4 linked regions of the Homo sapiens genome follow. The protein of the gene in region 3 interacts with the protein of the main gene of each other region in a pairwise test. Each region holds a gene or a part of one and is shown on either strand. Other genes may lie near its edges.

Evidence for each region.
Region 1: the proteins of LHX8 (region 3) and TBC1D1 interact in binary tests that used the Homo sapiens proteins (3 or more experiments, as listed by UniProt).
Region 2: the proteins of LHX8 (region 3) and ABI2 interact in binary tests that used the Homo sapiens proteins (3 or more experiments, as listed by UniProt).
Region 4: the proteins of LHX8 (region 3) and NEDD9 interact in binary tests that used the Homo sapiens proteins (3 or more experiments, as listed by UniProt).

Annotation. Positions count from the first base shown.
Region 1 is NC_000004.12:38,131,595-38,140,235, reverse strand, and holds the end of TBC1D1 (TBC1 domain family member 1), read right to left. Parts: intron 7,153-8,641; coding exon 6,979-7,152; intron 3,102-6,978; coding exon 2,901-3,101; 3' UTR 1,063-2,900; downstream 1-1,062. UniProt on the Homo sapiens protein: May act as a GTPase-activating protein for Rab family protein(s). May play a role in the cell cycle and differentiation of various tissues.
Region 2 is NC_000002.12:203,372,190-203,380,830, reverse strand, and holds part of ABI2 (abl interactor 2), read right to left. Parts: intron 4,900-8,641; exon of another isoform or gene 4,816-4,899; coding exon of another isoform or gene 4,699-4,815; intron 624-4,698; coding exon 447-623; intron 1-446. UniProt on the Homo sapiens protein: Regulator of actin cytoskeleton dynamics underlying cell motility and adhesion. Functions as a component of the WAVE complex, which activates actin nucleating machinery Arp2/3 to drive lamellipodia formation.
Region 3 is NC_000001.11:75,150,382-75,159,022, forward strand, and holds part of LHX8 (LIM/homeobox protein Lhx8), read left to right. Parts: intron 1-6,511; coding exon 6,512-6,695; intron 6,696-8,641. UniProt on the Homo sapiens protein: Transcription factor involved in differentiation of certain neurons and mesenchymal cells.
Region 4 is NC_000006.12:11,182,798-11,189,309, forward strand, and holds the end of NEDD9 (enhancer of filamentation 1), read right to left. Parts: intron 5,511-6,512; coding exon 5,421-5,510; intron 2,875-5,420; coding exon 2,365-2,874; 3' UTR 501-2,364; downstream 1-500. UniProt on the Homo sapiens protein: Scaffolding protein which plays a central coordinating role for tyrosine-kinase-based signaling related to cell adhesion. As a focal adhesion protein, plays a role in embryonic fibroblast migration.

The sequences.
Region 1 (8,641 bases), on a different chromosome or scaffold from region 3:
ATTGGCTCTAAGACCTGCTGGCATGAGATCTGGAGGGCCAAAGTGAAACAAGTGCCATTTTTATCTGAGATCACCATTGTTCAATGTGGTGTAGCAACGTGACAGACACAAAGGTGCCTGGCCAGTTCCAGCTTGTCCTCATTCCCTTCTGCTTCACCTCCAGCTCTTCTTCCTGAGTGCTGACTAGGGTGGCCCCAGGCACACCACTAAACACCTGGCTGCAGACCCACAGAGGTGGTCACAGAGCCCCCGCCACGTCACCTGCCCAGGCCCACTTCTGCAGTGGCCTTGTGCTTTGCTTCTGAAAGACGACCTGGTGACTTAGCCTGATTCAAACACCTTCTGAATCTTCACTTCTCCAGCGCTTCACACAGTTGAGTTTGGTCTAATTCTGTAACAAAATCCAGGATCCCATGGCACTTGGAGCAACTCTTCTCCTGTTTACCAAACCAGACACACAAACCTCCAAATGGACATTGTTGTTCTATCTACAGGCCACCCCTGAGAGGGAGCCGAACCGAGTGTGCAAGCTGAAGAGAGTCCCATCCTGTTCCAGGTAGTAGTACACTTCTTGAGGCCTCATAATGTCTTAAGAGACATAAATGGCATCTAAAGATTGACACCACCAAGTGCACAAATGAGTGTTGGGGGAAATATAACCCAAAACATGGCTTAAAAATTTGGCTCTGAGAATCCTCACACAGTTGCCTCTCCGCTCCTTGCCTAGTCAGTCACAGGCTGAGACTGTCCAACCTACATCCACAGGCTCATGTCAACAGTCCTTTCTGCCCAACCCAATCTCGTAACAGGACTCACTGCCACATACAATGATGGAGCTGGTCTCATCAGTGCTAAACTCACACCCTGTGTAGAGGTGTTACAACTTACGTAATAAACACTCAGATAACAACACTGGATGCAGACACCAATATCTCAAATAATCTCACTGATGGTTGGGTCATGACCACACGTAGGCCACAGGTGTTCATAAGGCATTCCTTTACTCCTGGGCTGAAAAGCAAAAATCCAAAGTTAAAAAAAAAAAAAAAACCACCATAAAAATGTGAGCATGAATTATTTCTTGTTTTATTGCTTTCTTGTTTCTTTCTTGATGCAGAGTCAATGTTTTTGAGTAACAGTAATAAGATGCCCAAAATCCAACAGTAAACATTCAAATAGTAAGATCTGATGCAGAACAAAGTCCTCAAATGTTAACTCCTATAAGTTACATCTAGCGGAACCACGAGGGATAAAGGCTGAACTCATCATCTTGGTTTATGATGGAAACCGCTATCCTCTGACCCAGGGAACAGGAGGAAGTCTCGAATGCCAGCCACCTGTTTAGGCACTGGTGGCAGCACTGTGGTCTCCTCGTGAAATGGCCGGGGAGACTCACAGTGAGTCTAAGTATGGCAATCTCTCCTTTTACCCCAGGATTAAGAGATGCCCCCCGCAACTGAGAGAATCAAAAGAAACTCCTATGGAATAGAAGACGTGGTTACAGTGATAAAGATCAGAAATGATTGTGTTGTCAAGGAAGTGACCTGTGACTGCACAGAACCCCATCTTTGTGAGAAAGCAACCCACTCTTAAGTGCACATCAGAGAGGCTTTACACAGTGACTGGCTGCAAGCAGGACAACCGTGAGCAGCATTTTGCTTGTTGAAGGCACAGGTCCTCGTCATCCTGAGAGAGGAGAGTCACTGTGTGCGACCTCTGAAAAACTGTCAGCTGTCATAAATCTGACTGCAGTTTCAGCCTGATCTTTTTTTTTTGAAAGTCCCAGACTCTTGGGGCACCCCTGAATATCTTGATGTGCCTACTCCTTCTGCAAGAAGTCAGATTTCCAAGGGATGGAGACTCAAAGGAACATGATTGCATTACATCACACAACAGGCAAAAATAAATACATGACTCTATAGTATGGGTATGAAACTACCACAAAGAAATATCTCAGACCCCACAACTGCAGCTCACATGCTAGCAATACCTGGTAGGGTCTAAAAGGTGTCAGCTGTCCCATAAAGCATTTACCTACTATGACTTTGATCAACTGTACTTATGGGATAAGCAAAAATGTATGAAAACACTCTATTTTTTTTTTAAAGACAAACTTCCTTAAATACCAAAGAGAGAGATCCATTTCACTTGACAGTGATCAGGATATCCAAATTAAATAAATCATTTTATTTAATTTGATGATCTTCAAATTCAATAAAGTGATCTTAAACATTCAAATAGTAAAATCTGATGTAGAACAAAGTCCTCAAATGTTAACTCCTTTAAGTTACATCTAGTGGAACCACGAGGGATAAAGGCTGAACTCATCATCTTGGTTTATGATGGAAACCGCTATCCTCTGAGCCAGGGATCAATGACCCAAGATCACTGATCTTCCCAATGATCATCTTAGGTTTCCATAACAAGAATGGGCGAGAGCCAACTGCACCTTGCCAGGGACGCTGAGGGTGTAGTCGCCACACAAACCCTCTCGGAAGAACGATGGACCCACGCCTTTGCCTGAGGCATGATCTCGAGCTCTTCCAGCTTTTGAAATTCCACCGTATTGTGAATGCTCTTTACAAACACAGTGACACTCAAAAAGGAACCAACAAGAAAACATAAGTTGCATTTATTCACGTCCACGCCATCTAAAGCTACTGTGTACAGTAATCAGGACTGGAGAAGGGACGATTTAGTATCTAAAAACAACAAAAAAAACACTGGGACATGCCCCCTGAATTGCAAGTTGGAGTTCGTAAGAATCTACTTGCTGGCAAGCCGGTTTCCTCCCTGAGAAGCACACTTCCCGCTTCCTTCTCTCCTTCCAGCGTCTTCTGTCCCTCTCAGTTAAGGCCTGGACAGTGTGGGATGGTGTTGCAATCTCTCCTGCAGAGCTGTCAGTCGCCCGTGGGCTCGGGCTGCGTGCACTCAGGCTCCCGGTCGCTGGGCTCTGCGCTCCGCCGCCGCAGCTCCTCCACCGTCTGCAGCAGGGCCGACCGCTCCAGTTCTAAGGTAAGCATGGCCTGCTTCAGCTTGCTCTCACTGCTCAGGAGCTTCTCAATGGTGGCCTCAAGGCTTTGGATCCTACCATTTGCCACCTGGAGAATAAAAGAAGAAATGAGAATACAATTGCCAGTGCTAACACAGGTGGGATCCAGTGCCCACACGCTGTCCAGCCTTGGGAGCACTCTGGAGCCGAGTTTCAGCAGGGATGAGTCTACAGTTTATCATCAGTTCTGGCCACACAGGAAGGCAACTCGCACCCCTTGCAGGTCGGTGGCCAGGCCCTTAAAAGCACCCTGAGAGCCCCCAGCATTTTCTTCTCCTGCTATGGCTGCTGTGGAAGCCGATGCTGAGATGGTGGATCACAACACAGAGGGAACCCAAACCCCCAGGCACCACCACCAGAGGGACAGCTTGGATAGGGCCAAAGAATGCTTCAGCAACACAAAGCTGAAGTGGGCGTCAGTGACACAAAGACTTCCGTTGTGCCAAGCCTCGGAGACTTGTAAGTTTGTTACTGCAGCAGAGCCTGGCCTGTTTTGATGAGCACATATACTTAAACGCACAAATCGATTTCGGGCTGACAAAAACTCAAAACAGTTTCCTCCTGAAGGCCCACGTGGTAACAATCCTCTAATCTGAAATTCTTTACAAACACAATGATACTCAAAAAGAAACCAACAAGAAAACCTAAGTTGCATTTATTCACGTCCACGCCATCTAAAGCTACTGTGTAAAGTTAGTGATGTCTAGAGGAACAAGACATCACTACGTCAAGAAACACAGGCATTTACCCCGGAACACATATGGAGTCCTTAGAAAGGCCAAGTGTTCTGCTAAGAGGTTTATGTGCCTGGTCTCACTGACTGTTCACTACGAGCCATGGAGACAAGCAATATCCTCTCTTCCACCCTACAGAGGAGGAATGAGGATCTCACTCAGTCTACATCCTCAGCACCTAGCACATAATTAATGCTAGTTAAATAGAACTTCCAGGTGTATCTTTCTAGCAACTGTCCCTCGTCTCTCTAATTTGCTCTGGCAGGCTTGCTTCCCAGGTGACAAGTGTGTTAGCTCTAGTGACATTAAAGGGTTCCCTAAGAAAACTGCAGAAACTCCAACATGTATGCTGATGTCCCTGAGGCCTTTCTGACCTGTTCCCCAGCTCACAGCTGCATCCTGGAGTGCTCTGTGACTTGGTCTATCTCACTAATCCAGTCCAGATTTGCCATGCTCCATTTTAGGTGGGAAAAATGGTATATATATACACATATATACACACACACACACACACACACACACACATATACACACACACGTATATATACACACACACATATATACACACACACACACATATATATACACACACACATATATATATATTTTTCATTTTTCAAACAAAGAAAATACTTTTTTGAATGTGACAACACTTGTGCCAGAAAATTCATGACTCGAAGTCTAGCTCTGGCTGGGCCACTAGAACACCCAAAATATGAAAAAGGGACCAAGAGCCTTAGTTTGTCAGCCTACTGGGCAAGGGGTGGTCCCACTTGGGGTATCTCTCTAAGCTGTACTCTCTGATCCTCAAAATCCACCCATCGTCAGGGCCTGGCTCAGGGCCTACCCTCATCACTTTGAAGCCCCTCTGCATTCCGAGGTGCAACCTGCAGCTTAGTTAGTAGTGAATTAATTTGCATGGTCATTTGCTATTCTGCATTAATGTCAGGTCTCCTCAATAACACCGATGCTTTTATAGAAGCAAGCATGTCTTCTCTTTCACACATGGTCCTGTCTCCCACAGCACCTGGCTCAGTGTGGGCGTCAATGACTTGTACGGATTATGACAAATCCATGTGCATTATTATTTGGTTCCATCTGGCACGTCTATGCAATCGTCTGATGTACTGCTGAACAAAAGAGGTGGTAGAATTTGCTCTCCAGCGTCTAGACAACGTTCACATGTATTTAACAGGGAATGAAATGGGATTTTGATATTTCTAACAATTTTATGGACAGAATAAAGGTAGGAAATGGGTTGATTTTGGTATTTTGGCCCCCCCAGAAAAGCTATATGAAAATTCAGTACTGTATTGAACACCCTTCCTTGTCAGTGTCTGAAAAGTGTACACGGAGGAGGCATGATTCTTACATATGAGAGGCATATTTTCGTAGGGGATCATGGAAAAACTATATCCAAACACCACAAATCGATACAATACAATCCTAGATCCAACTCTTTGAGAGCTGCAGTGTCTTACTCAACTTGGTGGCCCCCAGCACTCAGCACTGCAGGGACTCAGGAACTACTGGTGGGTTGGCATAGACCACAGTTCTGAATGATCCTTCCAGAAGTGTAGGACTACTTGGTCAAGAGAACGACCATTCCAGGGAGAACATCTGTAATCACCAATTACTGTCTGATGCCTTTATTGAGGAATGTAGGTAGCTAAGCAGTTTTTCACAGCTCCCTGTCTTCACAAAAACAATAGCACAGGAGCAGCATGAAATTACTTTCTATGCTCTGTCACCAAAAAACTACAAGGTCATTTACCCAATAAAACAAACCTTTTATTTGAGAACTGCCTATCTTAACAAGCTAAACACTTCAATGCAAATGTGAGCTTTATTAGAAGTTTCCACCATGTTATATTTCAGGGACCTATCATTGGCTTGGAAGCCATTTAAAATGACCACCTACACTGTGTACCCCTACAGGCCAGACAGGCTCTTCACCCTCTGGAGACTTCCCTTGAGTGATGGCTGAGACTTCCAGGGTAAATTGTATACAGGCATATTTTCAGTTAGGACATCTCAGGGGAAAAAAAGAAGTTAAATTTCAGAATGTGAGTGGTTATTAGGGCTGGGCAGGAATAGCATTCGGTCTTGGTTCCTCTCTTTCACATATCTGATAGGGTATGCTGGGATGGAATGCCCGCTGGGAGGAATGCATTTCAGATAGCTTGACTCACTAGGCTGGCCTTTCTCACCTTGCTGCCAAGCTTGTGTCTGCAAAGCTCATCTTTCTATGAAGAAAAATCAGAGGCTTAGATCAGAATGGAACTTATTCTCAGGACAGCCCAGGAACACCATAAAAATTTCGGCAAAAATATGTATTTTTATCCACAGCCACTCAAAAACAACTTTTAAAAACACCCTCAAAACAACTCCTTAACAGGGACAGCACTGCTACACACTTGTGACATTAAAAAAAGTAGAAAAAAGTAGAACATATGGTTGCTTCATGCCATCAGATTGACAAAAGAGCTGCACTCCGCAGTTAGGTGTTCTTTTGGGCAGTGTGCCTGGGTGATGTGGGGGTGGGGGTGATGCTGGACCTGGCCAGCTCTGGTCTCCGTGCTGCACCTCAGTGCTTGCTCTGCACACCCTCCTGCGTGCACAGTCTCAACTGGTCTTTCTTCTGTATGTCCTCACCTGAGTATATCCGTGTTGAAATGGAAGTTTCTAGAGGGGAGAACTGAGACCTTCATTAATCAAATCTTTGTATATGCACCAAGGACTCACAAAGAATTATCATCTCTTCTGGTTTGTTATATTTATTTCTGTGTTACTTTCCTCCTTTACCATCCCTCTGTGGACCTAGCTGGTTTTGCTCATAGAAGTTAAAAGCTCTTAGATTCTCTTTGAGTAATGACAACGGCTGGCATTCAGCTAACAGGCCACGGCATCCTGAATCCAAGTTCATCTCTGGGCCTGTCCCCTAAAAGAGTTAAGTGCAGAAACAGCCTCTCAGAAAGCTCTGGGACTGCCTGACCTTAGCAAAGGACAATCTGTCTGCTCCATAATAAAAAGGACCCATTCTCCCGGGATACCTTTGATCCCAACTATAAACAGATCAGGGTGGGAAAGGTCCTCTGGTCATGGGAAAGCCCAGCCTGCTGTTGCCTTTGGTGAGTTAATGAACTACCATATATTTGTGATTCAGGAAGCTGCTTTATAAATATGCTCTACCTGCAACTGTTCAAGGAGGTCAAGGTTCTGTTTGCGTAAGCTGCTGTTGGTTTTCTCTAATTTATCCATTCTTTGGTTGTCACTGAGAGGAGAGGAATCGATAAGTTCTTCTTGAAGGACGTGGTACTCAACTTCATAAGCTTGTAACTGTTTAGCGATGTCCATTTCAAATACCTGTTATAGAAAGAAAAGTCATCACGTACTAAAACTGAGAAAAACCCCACAAGTACAGGCAGGCGTCTGCAATCACGACAATGCGCACCTGTGAAGCGTCTCCTCTACGCTTAGCTCTACACTTGGTACTAGAAGTAATAAATAAGAAAAACTACGCACTGAGAAGGTAATAATTTTACTTGGGACAAAAGGATATAAGAAACATCTAGAAATAATTCCAAGGTAACATTAAGTACAGGTTTTTGATACTCACCTTCCAAAAGCCAAAAAAAAAAAAAAAACCTCTCATTTTTAAAGACATAAAAATTTATTTTTAGTTCTTATTTCACTTCTTTTCTCTGAAAATTCTGTTAGGTTAGATACATCAACTATGGGTTAAAAGGAGAAAAGAAACAAAAGAATCATAGCCTGTTTGCAGAGTCACCAAGTCAAAGTTTAATTATAGTTCAGTTGGGTTTTCAGAGTTACAAGAACAGCTAAGTAATGGGACTGTTTACTAAAAAACTCTCCTTTGCACACAAATATGCAGAAATGAGCCAAAACCCACATGTCACCCACACAGATGAGTGAATACGAAACGATGCCTGAGTTGTCTTCTTTCCCACAATAGTAATGGTGACGAAAACACCACACGTGTGAAAAACAACTCCTAAGTGCCTAAGTGACTCAAGCCGTCCGTGTCTGTACTTTCTCTTGGTAAGGAAGGCAGGGCGGAAAGCAGAATCAGAAGACAGCTGCTGCTGCTGCTGCCCAAGGCATTTCCTTTCTTTCCAGTTGTTTCTATGAGAGAACCCCAGGGGCTGGGGCCTCTCAGCACAGCAGTGAAGCCCTAACGTTTATCTGATGGATCTGAGAATGCAGTCAAGCTGGGACCATCTTAAAAGAAAAAAAAAAAAAACCCTGCTAGATCAGAACACACATTCAGAAAGTGAAGTCAGGCTTTAAAAGGGCAGAAACTGCCTCTCTATTGCATTGCCTTAAGCAACTCCAATATTGTTAAAAATCAGTGTAAAACTACTTCTTCTGATGGCTCCCTACTGGCATTCAAACTAGCCTATCTTCCCTGGAATCAATTTTCAAAAACCATGTTTCCTTTCTCACCATTCCCAACAATCTTATTTTCTCTTCCTTGAGATGAATTTTTCAGCTTGCTGTTTTTGATTCAGTGGATAATATTAATAAGGCACAAAAGTCATTTGATGCCTAAAAACTAAAATCCATTATATCTGTGGGGTGTGTGTGCATGTGTGCGAGGGGAGTAAGAGGGAGAGAGAGAATTGTTTACTGGATTGAACTGATTCTCTTTTGTCCTTCAGAGCGACCGTGAGGTCAGCAGGGATTATTATCTCCATTTGACAGCCGAGGTAACTGGCTCAGAGGCTTTGAGTCAGCCTTAAAATTGCGGCTCCACTGGCGACTCTATGAATGACTTGAGCTCGGTACTTAACCTCTCTCAGCCACAGTTCCTGGCCTCCCACCTGGGGCAGAC
Region 2 (8,641 bases), on a different chromosome or scaffold from region 3:
TGTTGGGATAAAATTATTTTAGAAAAATTCAAAGTACATGTCTATTAATATATCTTGTTTTTGAAAACTAATGCCAAAAGTCTGCTGATAAATACTTGAGATAAGGTAAACACTTTCATAATAACATGATGAATGATTTTTTAATCAGTCATATTAAATTAAAATTGGAAAGATTACACGACACTTATTTACTCAAACCATAGGAGGTATTATCATAACCAAGCAAATATAATTCATTCAAAGATGACTGTTTAAAACTTGAGAATACATCACTAAGAAAAAGCAAAAAGGGTAAAACAGTTATAGTAGCAAGGAATCTTCACAACCACAACTGGGCCAAGACTTTGTCCTCTAGGAAAGAAAGACAGATAAAAAGCTTAATTTTCTCAAGAGTTGGTTTCATTATGGGTTACTACTTTTAAAAGCTTGAAAAAAATTATACCTACCTTTACTCCATGTCCAATATCATCTAGAATTGTATAGTCAATAGGTTTTCTAATATAACGAACTGGTCGTTCAAGGTTGGCTGGAGCAATAATCTTATGTGTCCTTGAAGTGTTTTTATTGGTAGTCAAAATACCAATTTCTCTTCTTGCAACTTTCTCTTTATGAATATCAACTGTCTGCAAAATATAATGTAAAAAACAACACAAAAATGTATAGTTCTAATATCCACAAAAATCAAAATATATATGCCTAGAGATTTAATATTGCTACTCATATTCTAAACTATGCTTGCTAAATTTTTATTCTTCTGGACTACTGATTTTCTCCATTTTTAGGTTAAAGCAAGGGCTGGTAAACCATGGCCCACAGGCCAAATCTGGCCCATCATCTGATTTTTACAGCCCACAAGCTAAGAGTGGTGTTTACATTTTTTAATGTTTGGAGAAAAGAACAACCAAAAAAAACCTTCACGTGAAAATTATATAAAATTCAAATTTGCTTTTCCATAAGTAAAGTTTTATTGGAATACAGCCATGCCGCTCACTTGCTTATCTGTCTAGGCTTTACACTGTAATGGCAGAGATGAGCCACAACAGAGATGGTATGGCCCACAAAAACTGAAGTATATATTAGCTGGCTCCTTTACAGAAAAGGTTTGCCAACCCCTGGGTTAAAGCATGCTAATTTTTCCCTCTCCATTAAGATTTAGACTAATATAGTGATTAAGAAAGCCCCCGAAATTAATCTAGTTACATTTCTAATGACCTATTAGTATAATTTCTATTCATGTTTAAACATCTTTTTATTTAAAAAGAAAGAGGGCTGAAATATAATGTTAAAAATAAAGCCAGGCACAGTGGCTCAGGCCCGTAATCCAAGCACTTTGGGAGGCCAAGGTGGGCAGATTGCTTGATCCCAGGAGTTCATGACCAGCCTGGGCAACATGGCGAAACCCCGTCTCTACAAAAAGTAGCTGGGTATGACAGCACATGCCTGTAATCCCAGCTAACTGAGAGGCTGAAATAAGAGAACTGCTTGAGTCCAGGAGGTCAAAGCTGCAGTGAGCCATGAATGCACCACTGCACTCTAGCCTGGGTGACAGAGCAAGACCCTGTGTCAAAAAACAAAAAAGCCATTTTTTGACCCCAAAAGACCAAGTTGCTTGGGCAAAGCTGCTTATATTTTATCATGACAAAATGCCTGTAAAATATTTCATTAATTTATTTATATTTATTAAATGCTCACATAAGACATACGAGTAAGAATGTATTGTAATTACAATCTTCTATTTGCTAACAGAGGGTGAATTTCTCCACATACACAGGTAATTAGTACACTAAAGCAAAATTTTTTAAACTGCAAGCTGCAATTTAGTGGTATGTAAGCAGCAATTATTTCAAATCAAATAGAACAGAAACATCAGACTGCATGTACACATAGTAAGGTAAAATACTGTTTCTTGAAAAGTCTGTTTATTATATATATAAATATATACATGAATTATGTGCTGAATACAACGTAAAAAAAATTTTTTCCTGTGTGTCGCAGTCAAAAGAGTTTGAAAAATCACTTCACTAAAATGGTTCACATCTCTTACCACCAATTCCTGGCTCAAGCAGCAATCAACAGACACATTTTTTGCTAACTCCTCCCCAGTCCCACTTCAATGTCCTACTTCAATTTCCCCTTTCTAAAAGAACCTGGTAGTAACAGTGAAAAGATAATCATCATGACATTATAAAATACTGCTTTAAGAAATCTGAACACTGATCATTTATCCTTCTAAACTGCCTCAAGTATGAGGTAAGCCTGAAACAAATTCAAAGCCTCTTATTTCTCTACAACCAAGAGACCTTAAAAACAACAGGATCTATATGTTCCAGAGCTAACGAATGTATAAATGGAACATCAAATAAAAAACTAACCATGGTAGTAATCTTACAATTTTAAGTATTCAAGAAAAAAACAATCTCAGCCAGGCATGGTGGCTCACGCCTATAATCCCAGCACTTTGGGAGGCCAAGGTGGGCGGATCACAAAGTCCGGAGATCGAGACCATCCTGGCTAACACGGTGAAACCCCGTCTCTACTAAAAATACAAAAATTAGCCGGGCATGGTGGCGGGTGCCTGTAGTCCCAGCTACTTGGGGGGCTGAGGCAGGAGAATGGCGTGAACCCAGGAGGCAGAGCTTGCAATGAGCCGAGATTGTGCCACTGCACTCCAGCCTGGGCAACAGAGCGAGACTCCATCTTAAAAAAAAAAAAGAAAAGAAAAGAAAAAGAAAAAGAAAAAAAATAATCTCTAAACTTTTCTACGCATGTTAGGCTAATTATGAGAATAGCTTTCCTCTTCAACTGCTTGGGAAAACTGTAACAGAAAAGTTAAGCTTGCATATTAGTGATGATATTGGAATTCACTTAATTTTTAACTTTAGAGAAATGGAAATTAATCACATTTGGATTAAATTTTATTTTTATGAGACAGTATCTCACTCTGTCGCCCAGGCTGGAGTGGACTGGCCCGATCATGGCTCACTGCATCCTCGACCTCTCAGGCTGAAATGATTCTCCCGCCTGAGCTTCCTAAGGAGCTGGGACTACAGGCGTGTTCCACCATGCTGGCCTAATTTCTCTACTGTCTGTAGAGTTGGGGTTTTTCCATGTTGCCCAGGCAGGTCTTGAACTCCTAAGCTCAAGTGATCCACCCACCTTGGCCTCCCAAAGTGCTGGGATTACAGGAGTAAGCCAATGTACTGGCCTTGAATAAAGTTTAGTGAGTCATTCTAAATCATTAAAAGTATGGGCTAGAAATACCATTTCATACCATCAAGTATGCTTCAAAAAATAAAATATGACACTTTTTTTATAAAATGGGTCTTCGTCAGATCAATAAAAGGTTCATCAGATAACACAATCCTCAAGACATTGTTTTTATTCTCCTCAGTTTTTAGAAATGTACTTAACTTATTCAGAAATGAAACTATAAGAGTGTAAACCTGAGCAGCCATAACAGAATTACAAGCTTATAGCTTCTATTTCACATCTGCATACTATAAATATACATTTTTTTGCAACAGGTTCTCACTCTGTCACAGAGGCTGGAGTGCAATGGGACAATCATAGCATACTGTAGTCTTGAACTCCTAGGCTCAAGCATCCTCTTACCTCAGCCTCCTGAGTAGCTAGGACTACAGGCATGTACCACCATGCCCAGCTAATTTTATTTTTTGTAGAGATGGGATGTCACTGTGTTGCCCAGGATGGTCTTGAACTCCTGACCTCAAACAATGCTCCTGCCTCAGTCTCCCAAAGTGCTGGGATTATAGGCATGAGCCACTATGCCTGGCACATACTAGAAATATTAATAAATCTCCAGAGAATGAACAGGGAGAAGTAATCTTCCACTTATTATTTACACTAACACACAGTAATATTTTATAACAAGCACATATTTCTTGTTTGAAAAATTGAGACTTTAAAAAAGCATTAAAATATAAATTAGAAATCTGTTCATTTGATCTTATAGAGATGTGACTTGGTCTAGGGATTGGGGACATTTACATATTACCCACATGTTCTCTTCATATACACACAAACACACACTTAGCCCAAACCCATAGACCATAACAGTAAAAAAAAAAAAAAAAAAAGGGAAGACCAATACAGTAAATAGAAAGATAACAATAAGCCTAAAATAAAGGGTCATTGTTATAATAGAGCAAAAAAATTGGCACTAAGCCTCCAGGGAGAGAAGGCAAAATAGAAACATAATGAGTTACGAGGAAATATATCAATTCATCAGGAAAGTGAAATGTTTCCCAGGATTAAATTCTTTAAAAATATATTTGTTGTTGCTTTTTATATCAAATCTCAGTAAAAACTGAAGGCATGTTTTTTAAACAGCATAAGTATACAGAAAGTCAAAATAATTTAGTTTGGCTATATGATGTTTTTAATTGTCTACTTCAAAGAATGCCTACATCTTAGAAACACTAGGGGCAGGGTAACTCAACAGTGGCACTATTGACATTTTGGGCTTGATAATTCTTTGTTGTGGGCAGGGGTGAAGGCTGCTGTCTTGAGGATTGCAGAATATAGAAAAGCATCCAGGTAGATAACTGTAGCACTCCCCCACCATGAGATGTGACAACCAAAAATGTCTAACATTGCCAAATGTCCCCTTGGGGGCAAAACTTCCCTGGTTGAGAACCAAAGATCTATAGAGGAAGGACTAATTAGCTGGTCCCTTACCTCATTCAATCTCAAACTGCAATTGTTTCCAAATTTGGTCACAAAAGTCGACTCAAGATCAACGCCTCTAATTTGCCTAAGTATAGATATTTTAAGTAAATAACTTTTAAAAAACATCTATAATAATAAAGGTAATCTAACAACGGTATAATTTGCATTCTTGCCATCATACTACCACACGGGGTTGAACTGCAGTATTGCCTGTGGGCAGAAGAAAACATGCCTTTAGAAAATGGCTACGGTTCTATTTGGAGTTTGAATAATTTGACAGAGAGCACTAAATCTATTTCATAAACAAGCAGAAGATTCTCAGGTTGGTCCAGAAGATTCTAAGGTTTTCAGCAATCATCTGCTTCAATTTTTTTATAGCTTTCACTTGTAGAAAATAAGCATATTCAAATTAGATAGAATAATAAACACTCCCTCCTCACATCTATCATGCAGCTTTAACATTCATAAATTCGTAGACAATTGTCAGTTGTAAAAGAAATTTAGGAAAGCTCCTGTAACATATTCTTAAATAAAATATGGCTACTATATTTTTCCTACATCAAATTCACAGTATCAGTAATTATGGCATTTGCCCTCATGATATTCTTTGACATTACAATGTTAAATTTCATTAAGTTAAATTTTGGAAGTACAAGTTCAACACTGATATTTAGGATGAATTTTAAAAGTAAGAAAAGTATTTCAAATTTATTCTGGGTTTTTTAAGTTACTAGTTATATGACAATAAACCTACTTATTTAGAAGAGACCTCAATAACAGCACTCACCTGTGGCAAGTAAAAAATGTGTTCTGCTAGCAATCAAAGATGACCAAAACTAATTCAAATACACAATTAATATAATTATTGTTTGCTACAGATCCCATTAACCAAAAAACACACCAAGATATATCACTGCAATTGTATAGGACTTAATAAACAACTATTCTCCCACAGTTCCTTATTAATTAGCTTCCCCATCCTTCTCACTGATATTGCCAAGCTGATCTTGCATGCTGCAGGCTTTCCCCATGACACTTCAGCCACACAGTGCCAAACCCAGGTTCCTTAAGGATACCTCTTATGGCCTTGAGATAATCATACTGACTCCCAGCTCCTTTGCAAGCCTGAGCCCCACTCCCACATCTCCCTCATGAACCCAAGCACATGCTCAGGCCACAGCAGATGACAGGAAGGTACTGTATAAAATATTTTGTTTTAGGATTATCCATGCATTGTCATTTCCCATTACCACAGATAATTGAAAGTTGACTGTACTGGATAGCACTACCTCAGTTAGCTGCCCATCAGTGTGGGAAAACATCTGCAATCAAACAGTTACAGTGGATTAACCCAACTAAATTGGGTGTTTTTAAATATGTCTCAATTTTTTTTATTAGTAAGCTAATGTTTCAAATAAACATTTAAATTACAATTATGCTTCAAATTATGTATCATTCATAAAACAAATTAGTTACTAACAGAGTAATTTTCAGTTTTTTTATATAAAGTGATATAAAAACTACATAGGAAATTAATTGGGAAGTATAAAAAGTCTACTTTCTATGCATAATTACGTATTGATAACCTTCAGTGTATCTCCTTAATTAAAATTGGAAATTCCTTTTTTTTTTTTTTTTTTTTTGAGACAGAGTCTCGCTTTGCCACCCAGGCTGGAATGCAGTGGCACGATCTCAGCTCACTGCAACCTCCGCTCCCAGGTTCAAGCAATTCTCCTACCTCAGCCTCCAGAGTAGCTGGGATTACAGGTGCCCACTACCACACCCAGCTAATTTTTGTATTTTTAGTAGCGACAGGGTTTCACTATGTTGGCCAGGCTGGTCTCAAACTCCTGACCTCAGGTGATCCGGCCACCCTTAGCCTCTCAAAGTGCTGGGATTACAGGCGTGAGCCACGGAGCCTGGCCAAAATTAGAAATTCTTAAGCAAGGCTATCTATATAAAGTTTTTGTGTTTTGGGTTGTTGAGACAGTGTCTCACTCTGTTGCCCATGCTTGAATCCAGTGGCATGAACATGGCTCACTGCAGCCTCGACCACCTGGGCTCAAGTGATACTCCCGCCTCAGCCTCCTGAGTAGCTGGGACTACAAGTGTGCACCACCACACCTGGCTAATTTTTGCATTTTTTGGAGAGATGGAATTTTGCCATGTTGGCTAGGCTGGTCTCAAACTCCTGACCTCAAGGGATCCGCCTGCCTCAGCCTCCCAAAGTGCTGGGACTACAGGCATGAGCCACCACACCCAGCCTAAAGTTTTTAGACAGTAAAAGCTACCCTACTTGTTGAGTTCTTAAGGCCACTGCCTTTCAATACCTAGCTCTTGAGAAGAATTACTTCCAATTTTATATTATTTTATGATAATTATTTTCCAGCTCCTTTAATTGTTACCTGCTAACTAATTTAACACCTGGCCCAGTAAGTCCTACTCAGCCCTTGGGAAGGTGGGAAGAGCACTACTTTCTTAAGTTCTTTATGTTGCCTTTTGACCTTGCTTAATCTTTTTTTCTAAGCCATGACAAACTTGAACATGGATAAGTACTGACTAATTTTACTAGCAAAGAAAAAAGATGGGCCTCGCTTAGAAAAATTTTAGTTTAGTCTCCCTCTCCCTCTCCCGCTCCCTCTCCCTCTCCCTCTCCCCACGGCCCATGGTCTCCCTCTCCCTCTCTTTCCACGGTCTCCCTCTGATGCCGAGCAGAAGCTGGACTGTACTGCTGCCATCTTGGCTCACTGCAACCTCCCTGCCTGATTCTCCTGCCTCAGCCTGCCGAGTGCCTGCGATTACAGGCGCGCGCCGCCACGCCTGACTGGTTTTCGTACTTTTTTGGTGGAGACGGGGTTTCGCTGTGTTGGCCGGGCTGGTCTCCAGCTCCTAACCGCGAGTGATCCGCCAGCCTCGGCCTCCCGAGGTGCCGGGATTGCAGACAGAGTCTGGTTCACTCAGTGCTCAATGGTGCCCAGGCTGGAGTGCAGTGGCGTGATCTCGGCTCGCTACAACCTCCACCTCCCAGCCGCCTGCCTTGGCCTCCCAAAGTGCCGAGATTGCAGCCTCTGCCCGGCCGCCACCCCATCTGGGAAGTGAGGAGCGTCTCTGCGTGGCTGCCCATCGTCTGGGACGTGAGGAGCCCCTCTGCCTGGCTGCCCAGTCTGGAAAGTGAGGAGCGCCTCTTCCTGGCCGCCATCCCGTCTAGGAAGTGAGGAGCGTCTCTGCCCAGCCGCCCATCGCCTGAGATGTGGGGAGCGCCTCTGCCCCGCCGCCCCGTCTGGGATATGAGGGCGCCCAGCCGCGACCCCGTCTGGGAGGTGAGGAGCGTCTCTGCCCGGCCGCCCCATCTGAGAAGTGAGGAGACCCTCCGCCTGGCAACCGCCCCGTCTGAGAAGTGAGGAGCCCCTCCGCCCGGCAGCCGCCCCGTCTGAGAAGTGAGGAGCCCCTACGCCCGGCAGCCACCCCGTCTGGGAAGTGAGGAGCCCCTCTGCCCGGCCAGCTGCCCCGTCTGGGAGGGAGGTGGGGGAGTCAGTCCCCCGCCCAGCCACCCGCCCCGTCCGGGAGGGAGGTGGGGGGGTCAGCCCCCCGCCCGGCCAGCCGCCCCGTCTGGGAGATGAGGGGCGCCTCTGCCCGGCCGCCCCTACTGGGATGTGAGGAGCCCCTCTGCCCGGCCACCACCCCGTCTGGGAGGTGTACCCAACAGCTCATTGAGAACGGGCCGGGATGACAATGGCGGTTTTGTGGAATAGAAAGGGGGGAAAGGTGGGGAAAAGATTGGGAAATCGGATGGTTGCCGTGTCTGTGTAGAAAGAAGTAGACATGGGAGACTTTTCATTTTGTTCTGTACCAAGAAAAATTCTTCTGCCTTGGGATCCTGTTGATCGGTGACCTTAGCCCCAACCCTGTGCTCTCTGAAACATGTGCTGTGTCCACTCAGGGTTAAATGGAT
Region 3 (8,641 bases):
TATGCAAACAGGTATTTGAAAGAATGAACAGGACTCAAGCAAAGAGATCTAATGCCATGAAATTAGATAAGATCCTTTAGAAAGAGATCATAGGGTATAAAAGGTGAAGAACGGGTTTCAGAGAGGAGAGCAGGGTAAGAGGTGCTATTTAAATGGGACGTAGTAACAGCCAGAGTTGAGGAAGGAGTCGGGTGGAGAAGAAGCATGGAAGCTGAAGAAGTGGGGTGAATTCAAGAACGAGATGGCCAGCTGTGTCAAGATTATCAGAGAGACCAGGGAAATGGAAAATAATTTTATTTCTTTTTTTTTTTTTTTTCGAGACAGAGTCTCTGTCACCCAGGCTGGAGTGCAGTGGTGTGATCTCGGCTCACTGGAACCTCCGCCTCCCGGGTTCAAGCAATTCTCCTGCCTCAGCCTTCTGAGTAGCTGGGATTACAGGTGCAAGCCACCATGCCTAGCTAATTTTTGTATTTTTAGTAGAGACGGGGTTTCACCATGTTGGTCAGGCTGTTCTCAAACTCTTGACCTTGTGATCCGCCCGCCTCAGCCTTCCAAAGTGACGGGATTACAGGGGTGAGCCACCGTGCCTAGCCGGAAAATAATTTTAAATAACACCGGAAGTTCAAAAAATTTAAGGAGTGAAAGCAAGTAACCATAAAAGGCAAGAGGAAACTCAGGGAGGGGAAAGGCAAATGTCTTCATTGCACATATTTTATTTTGTTTCTTAATTTGGGTGGTTGATACATGGGTACTTATTCTTCTGTAAGCCTAAAGGTTTCATAATTAACAAATCACCTGTACGAAGAAGCAGATGGAAAAGACCTGATGATACTGCAGCTTCTCTAAAGACCTAGGGTTCACAGTGTTTTAATTGACTGCAAGGTAATGAGGCTGTCTTAGGAGACAAGTTCTACCACTTCAGCACTTTCAGATATCCAGATTATTGTGCTTATTTCAGAGTGCCAAATTTTAAGAAGGGACTAATAAGCAATCTGAAAAACATACTACCTCAAAGGCTACCAGGGTTGTGAAAGATTTAGATCATGCCATAATATTAAAGGCAGCAGGGATATTTATCTGGAGATAAGGCCAGGAGATGGTAAGAGAAAGAGTAATATCCAGAGTAGGTGTCTTTAAATATTTGTGAAAGGCTTCCCTGCAACGGAATGTAGAAAAAGGCACTGGTGTTCACTCATAATGAATTTTCTCATTATTGAAAGGCTACACAAATGGCACGGACTACCAAGGAAGGTAGTGAGTTTCCTCTGCCTGGGAGAACAGTTTTCTTTGGCAGGTAGTTCCGACTCCACGGGCTAAAAGTTCCTTCTAATTTAAGACTCTGTATATTCATAACAATGATAGCTTCAGGTAAGTCAGATGCATGACTTATATCATTTTGAAGTTGGAAGCAAAGAAGAAGGAGAGTTTTCTTAGAGCTTTTCATATTTGAAGGACTAAGGAACACAGGCAGACATCTGTCATGTAATTTCCAGGCATTTAGGTTACTAGTACTATGAGCAAGTTAACTTTGTCCTAAGCCCTACCATTTGGAGAATATATTTTGAATGTTGGCTTTCAATATGTTAAGGTTGAACATTAAATATTTTTGATATGATTCCAAAGGAAAGAGTACTAGCATGCTTATGTGTTTATTATTTGTATCTATACATAGGCTCACTATATGTTGTAGCCCTTCAGAGTATTTTATAAGAATTACTGTGATCTCAAATAGTAATCATACTTTCCCTCAGCCTCCTTCCTAGCATTGGGCATAATATTTTAGAAAGGTAAGAAAAAAGAGTTTTTATTACTAGACTTCTTCTAATATGCAAACTAGGTCACCCAAAGATTAGGAGGAAACTGGTGTGATACGTGGAGAGTTTCACGTTTCCTAGTTACAAATATGCTTAGTAAGACATTTGTAATAAAGCAGACTGTCCTTATACTGAAGTCAAAGAATAAAGATGAGTGATTTTTTTCCCCACACACTGCATCCAGATACAATCACTGTTCACATACTCTTTCAGATAAGTGAATTATGATTTTTATGTTGTGCAGAGACAGAGTAAACTATTGCTATTTCTTCCAATCAGTGTACTAGGAATACCCTTCCATATTAACATCATATTTATTGCCACATATATTGAGCATAGCACAATTTATTTAGCTTCCAATTTTTCACTATTATAAAATGCTGCCATGAGCAACATTGTATATCTACCTTGCGTGCTTGTTCAATAGTTTCCTCAGGATAAATTTCTGGAAGGGAGATTGTTGAGTCCAAAGATAAAACATGCATAGGGCCTTTATACAAACATGAAATCTCTTTGCCTTTGAGAAAGTTCATACAACTTTATTCTGCCAGGAGCTACGTACAAGAGTTCCTTTTCCCCAACTCAGAAGAATCCTGAATACTGTTACTCTTTTACATCCTTTACAATTTAATAGTTAGAAAAGAAAATCTCATTGATTTTATTTCTGTTTCTTATATTATCAATGAGCTTGAACAAATTAGTTTATTTTTTCATTTTTAAGACCGTATGTTTTTAGCTCACTCTTCTGTTGGGTTATTTTCTCTATATCTTACTGATATTTATTAATCCTATCTGTCATGTTAACCTTTCACGGTTCATCAATTTCCTTTTTATTTTTTCCACACAGAACATTTATATTTCTATGTGTTTAAATCTCCCAGTCTTTTGATAGTTTTGGCCTTTTTTTTTGTTTTGTTTTTCTTTTTTTGAGATGGAGTCTCACTCTGTCACCCAGGCTGGAGTGCAGTGGCACGATCTCAGCTCACTTCAACCTCCGCCTTCCGGACTCAAGCGATTCTCCTGCATCAGCCTTCTGAGTAGCTGGGACTACAGGTGCGTGATACCACACGCAGCTAATTTTTGTATTTTTTGGTAGAGACGGGGTTTCACCATATTGGCCAGGCTGGTCTCGACTCCTGACCTCGTGATCCACCCACCTCGGCCTCCCAAAGTGCTGGGATTACAGGAGTGAGCCATCACGCCTGGCCTTTTTGTTTTGTTTTGTTTTGTTTTTTGAGATGGAGTCTTGCTCTGTTGCCCAGGCTAGAGTGCAATGGTGCAGTCTCAGCTCACTGCAACCTCTGCCTCCTGGGCTCGAGTGATTCTCCTCCTCAGCCTCTCGAGCAGCTGGGACTACAGGCACCTGCCATCATGACTGGCTAATTTTTGTATTTTTAGTAGAGATGGGGTTTCACCATGTTGGCCAGGCTGGTCTTGAACTCCTGAACTTGTGATCTGCCACCTCGGCCTCCCAAAGTGCTGGGACTACAGGTGTGAGCCACCACGCCGGGTCTAGTTTTGGCCTTTCTTATGCTTCCCTATCTAGAGAGTATTTCAATGTTGCCTTTTGTTTTCTTAAACTTTTATTGTTTCAATTATTTACGCCTAAACTTTAATTTATCTGGCTTGGTTCATGGGAGATAGGGTTTTATCTATTTTTTTCTCTCTTTCAAATGATAAACTATCAGTTTTCCCTAAATCAGTGAAACATGCTTTCCCAATAAAATAAAATCCCATCTTTGTCATATACAAAATTATTATATTTGGCTTTTTGTCTGGGCTTTCTAAAGGTTTCATTCTCTGCATTAGTATTTTGCTTTTCCATTATATCTACATGGCCTGATTTTAGCTTAGTTTATGATTTAGAAGTCAAAAAATTTAAAGTAGTTACTCAGAAAATGTTAACTCTTGTTGGAGGTTTGCAAACAAGAAGGAGGAAATTTTGTCAGTGAGGAGAGTCAAAAGGACTTATACTTGATTCTGAAGCTGGGTAGCATTCATGCCAGAAGGAATTTCCTGATGTCTGGAATCTTAAACTATATTTTGCTCTACCAGTTAGTTACATGATACTTTGTTTTTGCAAACCTCCTTCTGCTTGATTACCTGTGGATGATCTTTCCAAGAAGCTGCTTAACAAGATAGTTATTCTGCTGTTTATATTATACCTTCTTCATGTTTATTTACAAAGTTTGAGTGTTTTTTTTTTTCAATCAAAAGATGGTGTTTCTTTTGTTTTACAACTGCATAGGTTCCATTCAATATATAACTTATTGGAGACAAAAAGATACTTTGAAGAAACTCTGGGAATCATAGTGCAACATGTTTTAGGTTATATGTAGTCCTCTGGCGTATGTGTCTTCTGGGTCCCATAAGGGAAAAAGGCCGGTGGCAGTGGTTCCCCCTTACACATTGGAGAATGTTTGAGTAATGTCATCCTATTTGGGTGAGACTAGTGTTAGTAGTGACATCTATTGTTCCAGAGCCTGTGGGCAGAACTGTGGAGTTTGGGGTGTGGTCTATAGGTATCTCTGAGTCTCACTAACACTCCAGAGAACAGGGATGTGGAGGAGGCTGTGACTTCCCACTTGTCTTACTGGTGGATACCTAAGTCTTGTCCCAGAAACATTCCTTAGCTGCTACTTTTCAGCCTCCTGCTCAAGGCTATATACCCCACTAGATTATTAATTTTTTATTCTTTTAGTTTTAATCACTCTTGAGAGTATACTTTGCCAACCTTCTATTTTTGAATGCCAGGGGCAGGGTGTAGTTCTGAAGTAAGGCCAGCTTTTTCTTATAAATTCTTTGCAGCTTCCTTTTATTTCACATTAATCAGCCCTGATTGCCTTGTGCCATCAAGGCCCTACCACCAGCCTTGAACAGACTTATGCCCCTGATGTTTTCCTGGCCTCATATCCCTGATCCCAAAATGTTCTCATGCTAAGTTTTTATCCCTTCGCCTCTCTTTCCTCTCATGACAGAATTGTTTGGAGTGATGGAAAAAAAGTGATACAGTATTTTAATGAAGAAACACTCTCTTTTTTTTTTTTTTTTTTTTTTGAGACGGAGTCTCGCTCTGTCGCCCAGCCTGGAGTGCAGTGGCATGATCTTGGCTCACTGCAAGCTCCACCTCCCAGGTTCACTCCATTCTCCTGCCTCAGCCTCCCAAGTAGCTGGGACTACAGGCACCCGCCACCATGCCTGGCTAATTTTTTGTATTTTTAGTAGAGATGGAGTTTCACTGTTTTAGCCAGGATGGTCTCGATCTCCTGACCTTGTGATTCGCCCGCCTTGGCCTCCCAAAGTGCTGGGATTACAGGAGTGAGCCACTGCGCCCGGCCCATGAAGAAACACTCTCTATGGTCAAGTTTTATCACCTGTCAGGGAATTCAAACACAGGCATATTAGCTACTGGAAGCATTCTGGGCAGCCTAGACTTACTTGCCCTGACCTGGATGTAAAGCTCCACTTGCCCTGAATTTGCTTCTTTTATTTCTGCAGTAGAGTGGACAGCAGGGTGGTTAGCACTTTACATTTTGTGAACTCTCATCAGTGGATGTGTTTGTATTTAATTCTACTTAAATATTATGAGTTTTTTTCTTATTAAAGACCTGACCTTAACATGCTTCTTAGGGAATAGCCTATGTATTCACCAAGAGAAATTGAACTCAGCAGGTTAAAATCTGACTGGAATAACTGAATCAAGAGGTTTGTAGAAAGCTTTAAGTTCTCAGTAGGGATTTTAGTCATTTGAACAAGGATTTGAAATAAGTCCAGCAGGTGCCTAAGAATACATTTAGTAGTCTTTTTTTTTTTTTTTTTAAGTTCTGATTAAAAGAGCTTTTTCTGCTTTTCCTTTTGTCCTAAATACCAGTAGTAAAACCAAGGAGATTTCTCTGGAATTCTTGAGGGCCCTTCCCCACCTTTTCTGGGGAAGATGCTGTTTTAGTATAGAATTGGCTTTTATTTTTATTTTTAAAAAATCTAATGGAGTTTTTGGGGTACTTTTGTTTGGGCTTTGTTGTTGTTGTTGTTGTTGTTGTTTTGTTTTGTTTTGTTTTGTTTTTGAGACAGAGTCTTGCTATGTCGCCCAGGCTGGAGTGCAGTGGTGCAATCTGAGCTCACTGCAACCTCTGCCTCCTGGGCTCAAGTGATTCTCCTGCCTCAGCCATCCGAGTAGCTAGGATTATAGGTACCAACCACCACGGCCAGCTAGTTTTTGTATTTTTAGTAGAGACGGGGTTTTACCATGTTGGCCAGGCTGGTATTGAACCCCTCACCTCAGGTGATCTGCCTGCCTCAGCCTCCCAAAGTGCTGGAATTACAGACATGAGCCACAGCACCCAGTCAAATCCAATAGAGTTTAATAATTGCATTCAAGGGGTAACCTTAACGTTTGACCAACTCAAATTCAACAAACCAAAATCCCTTAAGCAATTGGTCCCCTTTCCTACTTAAATAGAATTGGCTTTTAGGTAAATCACCAGAGAGCTATCAACTGAGCAAGAAAAATGACCACTGTTATTTGGACTAAAATGTTTCTTTTCTGTCTATAGAACTTTTATAAAAGCTGAGTTACATTTATGCGGTGCTTGTGTGGTAGTGTGATTGAGGTTGCATTCATTTTTTAACTGAGTTGATAATGTGCTCAGAAGCTGGTGTGTAACCTACCTACTTCTGTTGCTTTTCTCCCTGCTCAGGTGTGGTTTCAGAATTGTAGAGCACGCCACAAGAAACACGTCAGTCCTAATCACTCATCCTCCACCCCAGTCACAGCAGTCCCACCCTCCAGGCTGTCTCCACCCATGTTAGAAGAAATGGCTTATTCTGCCTACGTGCCCCAAGATGGAACGATGTTAACTGCGCTGCATAGTTATATGGATGGTAGGTATCCCAACATTTAACAGCTGTCTCCCAGGCAATCAGCAACTGGTAACTTCTAATATTAGATTATTGATACAATTCACATTTTGAAATATTACCTCAGTAGTAGCTGAAAAATATTGTGGGGGGTGCAGTAGAGAGCAAAATTATCCAAACATTTTTATTTCTGTGATTACATTTTAAGGAAGAAGTTTAATACTCACTTTGCAGCTAAGATGCAAATATTAATAATGACTCAATGCTTGATCTTTACTTAGAAATTTTTTGTTTGTTTTTACCGGTAAATATTTAAATACTTTATTTCCTGTGATCAGAGCAAGTGTTCACTCAGATCTTTAGATGGGAGTTTAATAAGTTTTGTTAAAGAGTTGTTTTTTATAGAAGAAAATCATACATTTAGAAGAGTGCATACGTAATAACTATTCAGCTTGATGAATTAATAAAATGAATGTATCCATATAGATATTGCCCAAAGTAGCAGATATAATTAGCATTTCAGAAGCCTCTCTTATGTCTCCTTCCAATTATTATCCTTTTCTCCCAAAGTAACATGGCACTGATTTCTAAAACCACCCTTTAGTTTTGCCCTTTTTGAACCACACAGAATGTATTTTGTGTCTCACTTCTTTCAATTACATTGTGAGATTCACCTATATTATTGTGAGAATCTGTTATTTGTTTTCATTGTTATATAGAAATCCACTGTAGGAATATACCACAATTTATCCATTTCCTGGTTAATAGATATTTGTGTTTTTTCCAGTTTGTGCTTTTATGAATATGCTGCTATGGACTTTATTGTACATGCTTTTTGTGCACATTAATTCACATTTCTACTAGATATGTACCTGGGAGTGGGACATAAGGTCATGGGCTACACATATGCTCAACTTCAGTCATTCTGACAGATAGTTTTTCACAGTGGTTGAACCAGTTTACACCTTGACCAGCAGCAAGGTTCAAGGTGCTTCACATCCTCACCAACACTTGGTATGGTGTAACTTCCTGATATTAGCAAATTTGATGATTGTGCAGTGCAATCTTATTTTAATTTGCCTTTCCCTGATGACTGAGCATTTTTTCATCAGGTATTTGTATATTCTCTTTTGTGAAGAGCTGTACAAGTCTTTTTGTCTTTTGGCCTACTGGCTTGTCTTTATTATTTATTTAAATGGATTTGCTTAATTTCTTCATGTAATCTGCATATAAAGCTTTTTGATAATTGTATGTGCTTAGAATATTTTCTCCTACTTAGTTGCTTGGCTTTTTCTACTCTCTTAATGGAATGTTTCATTGAGCACAAGTTCCTAATTTTAATGTAGTTTATTTCATCATTTTTCCTTCATGAGCCATGCTTTTTTTGGTGACATGTGCAAGAAATTGTTTATACTCAAAGATAATGAAGATATATCTTCTATGATATCATCTAGAAACTTTGTTTTACCTTTGCTGTGTAGATTTACAATTCATTTGGAACTGAATTTTGTGTGTGGTGTGAGGTAGAAAGTGAAGCTTTTTTGTTATGTTGATGAAAATAGAAAATGTCCAGCTTCTCTGTAGAGACATATTTGCCATAAATCAAATGTCCGTATGTTGTGTCAATTTCTGTACCTTCTGTTCTATTTTATTGGTCTATTTATTTTTGTGTTGCTACTTAATCATTCTAATCATGGTAGGTCTATAATTTTTAATATATGATAATGTGTTTCTATTTTGTTGTTATTCAAGTTTGTATTGCCCATTCTTGGCCCTTTATGTTTTCATAAAATTTACCTACTTGTCTATTTCTACCCCAAAAGGGAAAACAATTAAGATTTTGATACAATCTATTACAGCAAATATATTGATCAGTTTTAGGAAATTGCCATCTTAACAGTATTTTCTTCCATACCATGAACTTTAGCATGTCTTTCCATTTGTTTAGATCATCTTTAAATCATCTCATG
Region 4 (6,512 bases), on a different chromosome or scaffold from region 3:
TACATTTAAATAATTTGTCTGTAAATCTCAGTGGGATACCTGAATAAAAGAGTGGGCCAACCATTAAAAATGATAATTACATGATTACAAATCTCTTATTTTCATTAAATATAGTTTGCTTTAAATTATTTCTTTATGACTATTCCAAAACAAATAGAAAAATTTTCTTTGATTCTAAAAACCACATGACTGGTAACATCCATATTATGAAAACAAATCATCCTATATGTTACTGAGTGTATGGGTTTTTTGGTGAACACAAGTCTTGTTCCAGATATTTGAATTTGATAATGTTCACAGATTCTAGAATTTTCTTTGAATGCAAATACACTTGGAAGTGACACATATACAGAGAAAACCAAACCCTCAATTTTCCTAAAAAAATCCAGACCTATAGCATTGCTAAAATAATCATAATTTAACTTTTTATATTAGGAGTACCAAAGTAAGCCAATATTTAATTCTGTGACAGAGGAGTATGAAAAAGAAAACCCAGTGGCTATGAAAACAGAGATCTAAAAATTTAATGATTTAAAAATAGCCTCTACATACAAGACGGCAAAGAGTAATACAGATTGAACATTTGGTTTTAAAAATGTGAAATGTCTCCACTTAGCGTAGATCAATCAAGTCAGCCATCTCCTAAGAAATACACATTATACAATGAAATCTACAAAGACACACTTTTTAACTTCAAGCGTTGTTGATTTTCAGCAACCCTCTTCCCACATGAACATTTCCTTGTAATGTAATGTATGACTTTTAATCTTCTTTTGGCAGAGTAGGACTTTGAGAATTATAATAGCAGTTGTTTTGAAAAGCACCTTCTATGATCATTTATTTCCACTGATTTTTTTTTAATCACTCTGAGATCATGCATTCTTGTTTTTTAAATCCTTTTCTGTTCCAATGATTTGGTTGTTTAAAACAAGCAAGCTTAATTCAGTCAGGCATATATTGCAAATAAAAACATGTTTCCAAGTAGGCTGGAATAAAAATGCTAAATAAGAACTGGGCCAAAAGATCATAGATAATGTGCTTCTTCTCTTGGTAATATGTGAATACATTTACCCATGGGGTAGAAGTATTTCACCTGCCCCATGAAGAACCTGATGGCTTGTGGTGTCTGTGCTGTGTCAATACTAACAGATGTGAGGAGACAGACTATGGAATGGACGCTGTGACTATCTGTGAGATAGTGGAAGGGGTTATACACACTGGCCACAGGAAGTTGCAAAAATTAGATGGACTCTGTGTAGCTAGCCACTCTTGAGTGTCAGGTCTGCATATGTGAGTTTTAAAGAAGGTGCAAGATAGCAATAAATTCCCTTAGAGAGCAGGATATGTCCTGGTAGCTCTATAGTTCCATGATCAAGGACCTGGCCAGTTTCCCTCAGGTAATGGGGGTAGTAGCACCAAAGTGAATATTAAGAGTCAGAAAGGCCTCTACTTGCAACTGGCGGATCAAACCATTCCCCTATTTTGGTGAACAATCATAGTCTGATACGCCTTTGTAAATCTTTGCTGCAAATATGGTTTTTACAACTCTAAAAACATCTTTTGGAAAACCTCATGACTGAACCACTCACAAATGCAGAAGATTGAACAGCCCCAGGGAGGCAATTGCTCTCCTTTTATTGTAGCTGTCTCTCAGTATTGAAACAACCCAATCCTAACTGTGGTCCTGGCCTCTAAACACACAGGTCTCTCTTCCCTCCAGCACCTGAACTATCAGAGCTTGGATCCACATATATATTCTGAAATTTGCTCCGCAAGAGGGCTTTTGGGCACTTGGCCATCATGTGTTTAAGATGGTCAGTTTTGAAAAGAGTTTTCCAAACAAGAATAAGTCATGCTATGCCTCATGATTTGGAAGGTGAACACTTGCAAATAAACTATGCTTCCCAGATTTGGGAGTGCCAGGCTCAGAATCATCACAAGGACGTGGAGAACAATATTATAACCAGCTGGTATGTTTTTAACAACAACAAAAAAAATGCAGCATTAGAAGGTGCTTACTAAGGTGCTTCGTAATTCATGGTTTTTTTTTTAATGAAATGCATCAGACAAACATCTACAAACAAACATGAATACATGGGCATACAAAAGCACGTGGACAAGTTTTCTGTACAGTTTATGTCTCAGATACTTCTATGTATACATAAGAACCACTCAGGGGGAAAAAAAAAGATTTCCCTCTCCAGCTCCCTGAATTTCTGAAAGTTGACTGACCCATAAAATGTTAAAATATTTCATTTTTATATAAAATATCTACAAAAATAGATAACATTTACAAAAACCAGACAGTATTTCCAGTTTTCCTTAGTAACCGTTAACGCAGTCCCCTTCCTCTTTTTTTTCTTCTCAGAACGTTGCCATCTCCAGCAAAGAGCGCTTGAACAGCTGGGCATTTCTAGAAAGGTCTGTCACTTGGTGCACCATTTCCTGCAGGGCCGTGGTGCTGGGGTAATGGAGGGCGGCCATCTTGGTTGCCATGACTATGGTCTTGAGCTGCTCGCAGAGCTGGTTGCTGGAGTTCATGACTTTGTTGCGAATGTCCTGGGCAGTCACCTGCCGTGTCAGCGTGTCTCCAATGAACACCAGTTTGTGTGCACTGAGGATGACAAACTTGCTGTGTGCCACGAAGATTCGCGGGGGCTGGGCTGAGCTGACACAACTGAAGAGTGCGTCAATGGCGTTGAGAAGGGAAATGAAATGGGTCTCACATTGGTCATAGTAGAAGCACAGCAACTGCCGATCCTGAGCACTCACGCCACTGTTTGTGGTGGGTAGGCTCTGAGAGGGCTTCCACTTCGAGATGTCATTCTCCACGGGCTTTGTAATCTCTTGTTCCAACAGCTGGAACTGGCTCAGCTGCAAGGAAGACGAAAGCAGATCTCATTAGAGCAAGGGAGTGTGTTGCAATGGAAATTCACTAGGCCTTGGAGTTAAAAGACAGGGATTTTAGTCGCTAGTAACTGTCAGATGCATGTGAGCTGTAAAGCCTGGGTCAAGCTGCCTTGCTTTCCTAAATTGTAAAATGTAGACGTTGGGAAAGATGATCCTCAAGCTCAGACCTTCTATGATTGGACTACTGGTCTCTTGTACCCTCTGGCTAGAAGGTAGCATAGTGTTTAAACCGCAGCCCTGTTACCTACACCTTTATGGAGGTTAAATGAGTTAACGTTTACAAAATGCTTATAATAGTTTGGTATGTAGTAGGCTCTATGTAAATGTTTATTAATGTTGAGGGGTGGCAAGGGAAAACCAAATGTAGTGACCTCCTTGTCAAGTAAGTCACTGACAGTTTGCTCCTTCTCGGAGAAAGCCTCGACTATCTCAGGATGCTCAGATGAAATGACCATTCATGACCCCTTTCTGTTTATCCTACTCTTTCTGTCAAGATTGATAGACATGTTATGATCCAGCACTACAGGAAGATTAATGCATATAAATATATGAGCACTTAAGGAAAAAAAGTTTCTAAGGCAGTCTGAATGGGAATTGTGCATCATAATATTTAGTCCCCCAGAGCTGTTAAAAGAAGGGGGTTTTACCCAGAGTCAGATGCATCAGGTGCTGGCTTTCTTCCTTCTTTCCTCATTGCTACCAAATGGTGTATTATTTAAATTGCAATTATAATAATTTCTAGGGATTCCACTAAGACTCAAGAGAGACCTCTCTTCTGCAGATAAGGACTATCTGTGACCTGAGCTTCAGACTCAGTTAATCTCCCACCTGGACGTAGGGATGAGCTGGAGCAGTGATCACCTCACCCAGCTTCCCCAGCTTCTCTGAGAGATGCACAGCCAGCTTTACTTTACTTTTCTTTTTTTTTGAGACAGAGTCTTGCTCTGTCACCCAGGCTGGAGTGCAGTGGCACGATCTTGGCTCACTGCAAGCTCCGCCTCCCAGGTTCACACCATTCTCCTGCCTCAGCCTCCCAAGTAGCTGGGACTACAGGCGCCCGCCACCATGCCTGGCTAATTTTTTGTATTTTTAGTGAGACGGGGTTTCATTGTGTTAGCCAGGATGGTCTCGATCTCCTGACCTCATGATCCGCCCGTCTCGGCCTCCCAAAGTGCTGGGATTACAGGTGTGAGCCACCGTGCCCAGCCTTCAACAGCTTTACTTTTCTAGAATCTGTTTTCTTCTTAGCGATTGCTATGGTTTCTACAAGTTCCCCAAAGCCCTGCAGTCTTACCTTGCCAGATGCCAAGGCAAACATAAATAGGTACAAGGTGATATTCCAAGGTATTTAATCATAATGGATTATATTTTATATATCTTAGGCTTTATGCAAATATGTTCATCAATATATCATGTCATTAGATGGGGGGGGTACTTTCCCATTTTATAGGGAAGTAACTGAAGCTCGGGGAGGTTACCTGACTTGACATAGTTGGTTGGCCAGAAAGGATTAGAACTCAGATTTCCTAAATATAGCATGCCATTTCATGTCATTACATGCCATTTCACTTCATTTCATCTTAAAAGGCTTGTAAATAAATCCTCAATCCATCTCTCTTTATTTGTATGCCCTTGTTCTAGCAATAGTCGTCATTATCTCCCCTACTCATACCCAGCTTTTGAATGAACATGCCCTGCCCAAAGTCCTCAGTAGATAGGCCTGGATATATGTTGAAAACATTGAATTCTGCTCTCCTACCTTTAGATTGGACCAAGGCCAGGCAAACCATAGGCTTGTGTTGCTGGCGAAAGAGAGACAAATAGCGAGGTAGAGACAGAAAGAGAGAGAGAGAGAGAGAAAGAGAAATGGCCCAATCAACGTGGCCCAATCAGACTCTTTCTTGGGAATCTGATGAACAAGAGAAGGGAGCTAACCATCGGAAGAGGAAGCCGAGATGAAAAGCCATCTATAGAAGTTCTGAGTGGCCATTTATGGGTTCTGCAAAGTTACAGGGGAGCCAAATGAGTAGATAATTAGAGAAAACCAGAAAATAGGTGAGAGTGAAGTAGACTGATAGAAAGAAGCAAAGGAACTACAAGAAGGAGAGATAATTTACAGTTCTAGTTCTCCCCAGACCTGGCTCTATCTTCACTTTCTGTTACTGAATTCCCCTACTGTGGCTTTACTATAAACCTGCTTGCTTAGGCTAGCTTGAATGGGTCTTGTTTCTTGAGACCAAATGCCTTAACCCAAATAGTCCTCATATGTTAGATATGCAGGTTTAGCCTTTAAAAAAATTGCCGTTTAGATGGAACCCAGGTACACCCAGTTGAACTAACAAGGTCATAAACCTTCTCTTTGCTTTTAAACCCCATTCCGTGCTTTGGAGCTGATTCCTGCCAGTGAGCTGGAAGAATCAAAATCATAATCTCTTGAAGTGATACCTTTCCTTAGTGCTAGGTGGGAAATCTTTCCAATGCCAAGCAGTTTTTGCTCTGATTGAACTTACCTGATGATGTTCCAGCTGCATCTTGTTCTGTTTCATGATATTCTCTTTTTCCAATAGCTCTTTCTGTTGCCTCTCAAACTCCTCCTTACCCTGTTAATTTTCAACATAAAGAACATATTATGTCATCACTGTGATTCACTTATGCTAACAATTTCATTGACGGATGAGTAAATACTCTTTATTTTCCACTGCCTTGGCAACATCTCAAATGCCCAGTGAGGCACTGTGAACCCTAGACGACAGGGGTGGCAGAAAAATAAAGCCCATTGCCATATAGGGTGCCAGCTTTCTGGGGCACCTTAAAATTTTCGGAGAGCTACTCATGATTCCCTTCAAATCTCATATATAATGTTCTTTTTATAGTCTCTGGGTTCTTTTCTCATAGATTATATGTGAACCTGTAAACCCCCAAATGCAGGTCTAAATGTGGTCCACCTCTCACTTCTAGTTCCCTCAAATCATCTATAGATTTCTGCTCCAAGGCAGTAGTTCCCACTGTGCAGGGTCAGACAACCAGTAAGATGAATGTTCAATGCCTCCATCCTCTCTCTCTCCACTTCCTTCCTCAGCATCAGGTGGGGCTCAGTTCTCCTTGCCACACTTTCTTGCGCTTGAGGGAATTTGGCATAATAGTTACGTAGTTCTCAGTATAATCTGTGACTCTCAGTCAAATTAAAAGAATGGCAGAATAAGATAGTAAGCCTAGTCCTAAACAATGGATCTTGGTAGATTTTTTTTTTTTTTTCTGAGACAGAGTCTCGCTCTGTCGCCCAGGCTGGAGTCCAGTGGCACGATCTTAGCTCACTGCAACCTCCGCCTCCCAGGTTCAAGTGATTCTTCTGCCTCGGCCTCCCAAGTAGCTGGGACTACAGGCGTGCATCACCATGCCTGGCTAATTTTCGTACTTTTAGTAGAGATGGGGTTTCACCATATTGGCCAGGCTGGTCTTGAACTCCTGACCTTGTGATCCACCTGCTTCAGCCTCCCAAAGTGCTGGGATTACAGGCGTGAGCCACTGCGCCCAGCCAGTAGAATGTTTTAATCCCTCAAAGTGGAAGGGAAAGCTGTCGGAATCCCAGGTCAACTTGGAGC